Homo sapiens: one gene and its partner. The protein of the gene in region 2 purifies or fractionates together with the protein of the main gene of each other region. This does not show direct contact. Each region holds a gene or a part of one and is shown on either strand. Other genes may lie near its edges.

The links.
Region 1: the proteins of HERC4 (region 2) and TKTL2 purify together in Homo sapiens (co-immunoprecipitation; one large-scale study listed by IntAct). This does not show direct contact.

The regions. Positions count from the first base shown.
Region 1 is NC_000004.12:163,470,732-163,475,303, forward strand, and holds TKTL2 (transketolase-like protein 2), read right to left. Parts: upstream 3,024-4,572; 5' UTR 3,004-3,023; coding exon 1,123-3,003; 3' UTR 364-1,122; downstream 1-363. UniProt on the Homo sapiens protein: Plays an essential role in total transketolase activity and cell proliferation in cancer cells; after transfection with anti-TKTL1 siRNA, total transketolase activity dramatically decreases and proliferation was significantly inhibited in cancer cells.
Region 2 is NC_000010.11:67,988,284-67,991,783, forward strand, and holds part of HERC4 (probable E3 ubiquitin-protein ligase HERC4), read right to left. Parts: intron 2,917-3,500; coding exon 2,857-2,916; intron 2,733-2,856; coding exon 2,621-2,732; intron 2,118-2,620; coding exon 1,928-2,117; intron 553-1,927; coding exon 380-552; intron 1-379. UniProt on the Homo sapiens protein: Probable E3 ubiquitin-protein ligase involved in either protein trafficking or in the distribution of cellular structures. Required for spermatozoon maturation and fertility, and for the removal of the cytoplasmic droplet of the spermatozoon.

The DNA of each region.
Region 1 (4,572 bases), on a different chromosome or scaffold from region 2:
GGTTATGCCTCCAAAGAACTTAATGAGGGTAATAAAAGTAAGGAAATAATTACCTGACATAGACACAGAGTAATTTAATTTAGTTTGGAACCTTGGGTCCATCTATGATTTGCCTGACTGGTACTTTCTTGTACTCCAAGCATATATTTACACACTGACAGCCAAAAGTCAGGAGTCTGCTTAAGGGATGGCTTTTTAGTCCATACAATCTTCTCTAGTAACTTATCTCCAGCTTCAACCTTTTTCCAGGTTTGCTTCTGGGGGTCATGACTCTCTCTGTTTCTTATTTAGACACAAGTTCTCCTTATTTAGGATTTCATCAGGAAGAAATCAAATCCCACATACACAGCACAGACTGAAGTATCTGATTTTTAAATGCTTTATTACATTAACTTTAGTATCATTAGCAGATGAATATAATCAGATTAACAAACTGGTTTGGCCACAAGGAAAAGAAAAAACATTTCTGAAGCTTCACAAAACTATGTGTGTAGTGTGCAAACTAGAACCAGTTATACTTTCATCACTTCACAGAACACAAGTAGTGTGGTGCATCAAGAGATGTTCCACTGCTGCACCATCACCTCCAAACTGTAGAGGAGAGATGAAGGCAAACTTTGGAGGAATTTCCAAGGCAACTGCAGTCAAACATTATCTGTAAAACTGCAGGTATAAATGGCATTATACAAAAGCTCAAACATCCTTCAAAACTTGGACTATTGAAGTCTACAATTAAATTTCAATTTTTTTAACTTACAAGGAAATCATACTCATTTAAGATACAGTTACCTCTACTTTAATCCCCAGCTCAGTCAGATATTTGTAGTCTTATCAGAAATATTTGTATTAGGTAGTTGTTTTATTTCCTATTCTATTGCTTACAATTTTAAAATCCACATTAATAACTCAGAGTAACATTTATACATAGATTAACAGAAAGGTAAACTTTAATTTCCAAATTAGGAATGAAGAAAGATGTTAAATGGCTTTGCTTTAAAAGAAACAGTACAACTGTATAGGTATAAATAATGGTTTTGTGACAATAAACATGAATTTAATACAAAGATACCAGTGCTTTTGGGCCAAAGCCAATAGACTTGACTTTTTAGAAATAAGCCTAGTTTACTTCATTAAAGTAAGTGTTACGGCTGCTATAATGTGTCTGGTACTGATTCCAAACATATCCAGCAATTCACTAGTTTTCCCACGTTGAGGCACTCCTGACACTGCCAGTTGATGAACAAGGATATCAGGCTCCCTGGAGACAGCTGCACAAACAGCTTCTCCAATGCCACCTTCCCTGTAGTGATCCTCCACTGTGATAACTCGGCCGCCTGTGGCTTTTGCACTGGAGATGATGGTGGCGGCATCCAGGGGTTTAATGGTAAATGGGTCGATGACACGGACAGAAATACCTTGTTGAGAAAGATGGTCAGCAGCTTCTAAGGCTTCATGGAGAGTAACTCCAGCTCCAATTACTGTGACTTTATCATTGACACCGTGGCGGACCACCTTGGCCTGGCCAATCTCAAAATTTTCTTGTGGGGTATAAATAACTGCAGTTTCTGGTTGGCTGGTTCGAATGAAGCACATTCCCTTGGTATTGGCGGCTAGATAAATAGCATGCTCTGTCGAGATGGCATCACTTGGATAGAAAACAGTACAATTGGGAATGCTTCGGAACATGGCTAGATCCTCCAGGGCCATCTGGGAGACTCCATCTTCTCCAGTGGATACCCCACAGTGGGAACCAATAAGGTTGATATTGGCTTGAGAAATGGCTCCCATTCGGAGCTGATCGAATGCTCTAGTAAAAAAGGCAGCAAAAGCACCAGCAAAAGCAATGGTTCGACCACGTGTAGCACAGCCTAGTGCCACACTTACCATGTTTTGTTCAGCAATAATACACTCTATGAAACGCTCAGGGTGTTCTTTCCTGAATATCTCAGAAAAGGTGGAGTTCATCGTGTCACCACTCAGAACAATAACTCTTTCATTTGCACGGCCCAGTTTAGCCAGAGCCAAACCATATGTTTTCTGAGTAGCTATCTTGTCACCAACTTTGTAAGCAGGTGGGGAGGTCATTTTTATATCTGTGATGCTTATTTGAGGTGAGTCTTCCACAGGCGATTTTGGTATGAGATTCTCATTGGTCTGTATCTGACTCTCAATTAATTTGACAATTGCATCTGCTCTTTCTTTTGGCACTGGCTTTCCATGCCAATTTTCTGCATCCTCAATATTTGGAATACCCCGACCTTTGAAGGTCTTGGCAACTATAGCAGTAGGCTTGTTCTTCACTTGACTTGCTTGCCAAAATGCTTGGCACAAGGCCTCCACATCATGGCCATCCACTAAGTAAGTATTCCATCCAAAGGCTTCACAGCAATTCTGGTAGATGTCTGCGCCATGCTCAAGGGGTGCAGGGCCACTTTGTCCCAAGCGGTTCACGTCGAAGACCGCCACGAGATTGTCCAAGTTGTAGTGGGAGGCAAAAGCAAAAGCCTCCCACACAGAGCCTTCTGAGGATTCGCCATCTCCCATAAGGCAGAACACCCGGTAGCTGGCCTTGTCAAGGTACTTGCCAGTATAAGCCATTCCACATGCAGTACCTAATCCCTGACCTAGGGACCCTGTTGCCACGTCAACAAACGGCAATCGGGGGGTAGGGTGTCTCTCCAAGTCGCTGTGAAGTTTCCTCAGGTTCAGCAAGTCAGATTCACTGATGTCACCCACCTCCACCCAAGCAGCATAGAGGATAGGAGCAGCATGTCCCCTGGAGAGGATGAACCGGTCGTTGTCCGGGTGTTCTGGGTCTGTCTGTTTATACTTCATCGTGTGGAAGAAGAGGACAGACACGACCTCCGCTGCACTGCAGCACGACGTGAGCTGGCCAGAACCAGAGGCACACGTGGCCCTGATGGAATGGATCCGCAGGCGGTTGGCTGTGTCCCGCAGCACCTGCACGGTCTTCACGTCGGGCTTGGCGTCGTTGGCCATCATCTCTCTTTTGTCGGTTTGGCAAAGCAAACGGCGCCGCAGCACCCCCACAACCCACCGCGGCAGTGCTCTCACGTGACCGCCCCGCCCTCGCCTCCCCTCTGCCTGAAGGCCTGAGCTCAGCCACCAGCCGGGGCGCCCACAACGGAGCTTCCCGCGAGACTGAGGAAACGGAAACGTTGGAGTAGCCTGCACCCTCTGATGTGCACCGTTCCCTCTCCCTGTCCACGCCCAGCTGAATGGATTTTTAGTATTTACTTTGTCACGTGCATGTTCAACATTAGGAAGCATAATTAAATTTTTTACCTTTCCCTGTGTTATAAATTCAAGACTAGACATTTTTCTGTGTATTATAGGAAGCGATTTGTCAGGCTGTGCTTTTTTAATGCATTAACACTATATCCGAGTCATCACTCTTTCATATCAGAACATTAATAGAAAGGATACAAAGTCACTTTCAATCTGACCAGTATGGCAATGCTATCTCAACAGAGACTTTCTCAGAGCAACCAAATATCTGAATCTCAGACTTATAGAAAGAAATGCAATGACTAATTTGACCAAAATTTATAGGAAGAACAAATCTGAAACCACCCAATTGCAGAATAGAATTGCAACTCCAGTGTGCCGTAAAGTACTATTTCTGTGTTGAAATAATTAGAAGGCCAGTAGGCTGAGGTAGCTTCAGCTCCATGAGTTCCTACCTAAGGAAAGGAAACCCAAATCAGTGTAAATGATAAAAAGGAAATTTAAGCTTAATCAATCAGAAACTGCCAGCTAACTTCTAACTGGGGACTTTCCACTGGGATGACCCAAATAAGTCTAGTACTCCACTTTAACCAATCAAATATCTTTCCTTTGCTTCCAAATTCACCCTATAAAAGCCTTCTCCTTGGCTCCTTTATCAGGAGCTACCAGATTCATGAATCACTGAATGGTCAAATAAATGCTTTAATATTTTAATGTGCCTCAGTTTATCTTTTAATGACTATTACTACAAATCATTTTTAAGACAAAGTTACTTACTTTAAAAAACTAAATTTGTGGGCCGGGTGCTGTGGCTCACACCTGTAATCCCAGCACTTTGGGAGGCCGAGGCAGGCGGATCACAAGGTCAGGAGTTCGAGACCATCCTGGCTAACACGGTGAAACCCCGTGTCTACTAAAAATACAAAAAAATTAGCTGGGCGTGGTGATGGGCACCTGTAGTCCCAGCTACTCGGGAGGCTGAGGCAGGAGAATGGCGTGAACCTGGGAGGTGGAGCTTGCAGTGAGCCCAGATTGTGCCACTGCACTCCAGCCTGGGAGACAGAGCGAGACTCCGTCTAAAACAAAAAAAACTAAATTTGTGCCATTGAACTCTTCTAGCAGGCCAAGGTTATGGTTTGTCATCAATAAAACAACAATTAAAAAAAACACAATGATAATATATCATACCTTCCCATATTGCGATGTTAAACCTCTTGGTTTCTTGAGCAATAATTCTTACCTTAACTTCACGTTAAAATTAGGGCACATAAGAAACACAATGCCTGGTTCCATCCCAGAAAAATAGAATTTGAATTTCTGGAC
Region 2 (3,500 bases):
ATGTTCATAATTACAACTAGGACCCAATCTCTTTCACAAGATAACCACTTACAGCTAACAAAAACCATATAATGCAAACTAACAAATTATATTCTTCATAAGGAAATATAAGGAGAATTCTAACTCATTAGTATGTTATTGTTCTGCCCAACTATGGATAAGTTATCTATACATGCCTAACAAAGTCAGGTAAGACCAGAGCTCCAAAGGACAGGTTTATTACTTCTTTTAAGAGAAAGTATAGATAACTTTTCCAAATTTCTATAATATGCATTGTTTTTGCCAATCTAAATCTTTAATAGATTAATGTTAAAATGAACAGTATCAATCTGTTAATAGGAATGGGGAAAGAGGAAAATAAAGGAATGATTGGACATACCCTATGTAGTATTTCTAAAACCTTTAATGCAGTATGAAGAAAACTGTTGAAAATTCTTCTTTCAGAAGGGGGAATACCGATCTTGTAGAGTTTCAAAAGATGTACCACAACTTCCTTAAAAAGTTCTACTATCTTGAGGAATAGTGGAGGTTCAAGTACTGACCACCAGTTTTCTGTTATTAAAAAGTGAACATGCAAATAAAATGAATTTTTTAAAAAATCACAATTTTCAAAATCATACTGACTTTTTTTCTGAAACAGTAGTTGTTAAACCTGAGAAAACCCCAGAAAGATGCATATAACACAATATCTTATGTAACATTTGTAAGGTTTATAAACCTCCCCCCGACCAAGTTAAACAATATTGTCCGAAAAGCTCTCAAAAGCAAAAATAAAGTGTGAAAGTCTTGTTGAATTTATATTCTTGGTTTCCTAAGTTATATAAAAAACTCACCACTATACCTAATATTAAAACCAGTTTTTAAAAAATGTTTTGAAAATTACAGTTTCAATTTTTAAACAAAACATCCTTTAAATTGTATTGCTCTAATACTAAAGGATCTTTCTAACTTTTATCTTTCAATTTAATATATGGTTGAAATATTGTGAACCACTACCTTTAAAATGCAAGGTACTCCTGAAGATCAAATACAGAAGCTGAACAATGTAAAGTGTAACATATGGGTCCTTCCCCACATTCACTATTTGTAGTTACTAAGTACAAACACTTCAATCCTATGAAGCAGGCAGAAAGAATACAAAAACTTCTGACAACAGGAAAGCAATACTCTTTTCAGTCCCTGCTTGACTCTTTTTCCCTCAGATTCCCATATTCTACCCCTTGCTTGTTGCTTCCTCCATTTACCCTCAGCCTTAAAGTTCTTGTACTGACATTATTACTTCTATATATCTCAGCTCCACATATCTAACAAATACCATTAGAAAGAAAAGCACTGGGTTAAATGTAGCAAAAAAAGTATAAAGGCCAGGAAATAGAGATAAAATCTAGACAATTAGAAAAATTAAAGTGAGAAAACTTTATGCCAAAAAACCAGAACAGTAAGAGATAGAAGTGCAAGATCAGATGAGCAATAAAATCTAGTCTATAGGCAGAAAAATAAAATCAAATATCATGAAATTAGCAAGTGAAGGAAACACAAGATAAAGGGCTTATATCAGGGTTCCAAGAAGATTTAAAGCCCATGTTTGTTCAGTTTTAATTGTTCCTCCTCCTTTACTTCTTTAATAGCAAGATTATACTAAAGGCGATGAGGGAAAGGAATACGGGTGACAGTTTTTAACTTTCCTAATACTGTCTCTGCTGTTATGTTTAATTGAACTTCTATATCTAACATGTTTTTCTTTCAACAACTCCAACAACTAGAATCAAAAGACTAGACAAAAGCAAGAAAAGGAAAAACAGGTTCATTTTTGCCTAAGACAGTGTCAAATAAGCAGGGCAGCAGAACTGCAAATGGCAAAAGAACTTATGAAGCATTTTCATTTAAAGAGAAAAGGTTTCAAAAGAAAAAATATTAGAATTCTTACCAAGTACTTTCAGTGGTGCCTTTTCTAGGTTCACAAGAGCTGTACCAAAGGGAATTGCTATTGTTGTGAAATTGTTGGAATCACTCATCAGGGGACATTCTGGTAGAGTAAGATAAAACCTCAATGCTTCAACATCAGGTAAGGAGCTAGTCAGTTTAGGAATAAGATTCTTTTCCAAACTAGCTGCCACCTATATTTTGACAAAAAGTAAAACCTACTTCATTTAAAATGAATACACTTTCAAAGAAAAAAAAAAAAAAGGAAGGCAGGAAGAAAAGAAAGAAAAGGAAAATTTTGCACTACAGCAAATATGAAATGGTGAAGAAGAAAAAAGAAAGACAATGTCTTACAATGAATATACTTTGGAGCACAATGAAAATTAATGCCTAAGCATTACTTGGAGAATTTAAAAAATCACGTGTACAAGTCTCAATTTAAACTCTCTACCTCTATAACCATACACAAACTTAAGCAACGTGGTAATGTTAAGTAATTCAGGGTCTGCTTCAAACATCTGAAAAGATTTATAGATCTTTGACAGCTAAATTACAAATGCTTTAAAATAAAATCTTATTTTAAAAGCACATCGTAAGAGTCTGTGAAACTGCAAAGTAAATTAGGCTATAAACGTATAAAACAAAAGAAAACAAAATCAACAGATAATACTGTAAACATAATACTTTAAAAACAGACCTGCTGAGATATCTGCGGATGATCAGGTTGTATAAGTTTGTGGAATAAAAGCCTAGCAGCATTCATATCAACCCCTGAAAATCTGGTACCTGTTCTATAGTGATCATCATTGCTAAAAAACAGAAAAGAAAAAAAAAAATAGAATAAAAATTTAAAATTATTTCATTTTTTAATTTGATATACTATTTAAGACAATAAATTTGAAAATTTCAGCATATTAAAGAATTGCCACTTACCTAACAGCTAAAAAACTTCCATTTAGGCAACCAGAGGAAGAAAACGTTCCATCTATCTCACTAAAAAATTTAAAAAAGTTTTTTTAATCATAGAATCAGAAATTTAATTGTTTACCCTTTCTTAAAAAAGAATTAAAATGAATAATTAATCTAATGTTTAATGCTACAGAGCACTCCTCTAACACCCAATTAGATGAATCAGAATTACATAAATTGCTAAAGACTGATAAAATAATACTTGATGAAGGTATTACTGTTTATTCTAGACTTTCTTAAATATTACTTTCATCCATTTATCCAATGTTATCTGCTTTAAAACATGGTATTTTAAAAATTAAGTGTGTATGTTCATGTAAAAAGTTTTTTAATTTAAAAAAATTTTAAACATTTTATATTGGCAGTGAGCCTAATCTGGGATGCCTTTGGGATTTTCAGAAAAATTATAGTTTTGGAAAACAAGCTAGAGAAACAAAACAGCTTTTCAAATACAACCCATCATCCCAAATACCAACAAAAAACAAATAACATCTTAAGTGCTACTAGGCAAGTTAACAAAATATTCAAGAAAGAAATAATACTCAAGTCTTCCACAAAGTATAAAAGTTAAGATAGTGACCATTATAAAACCAGAAGGAACACATTTC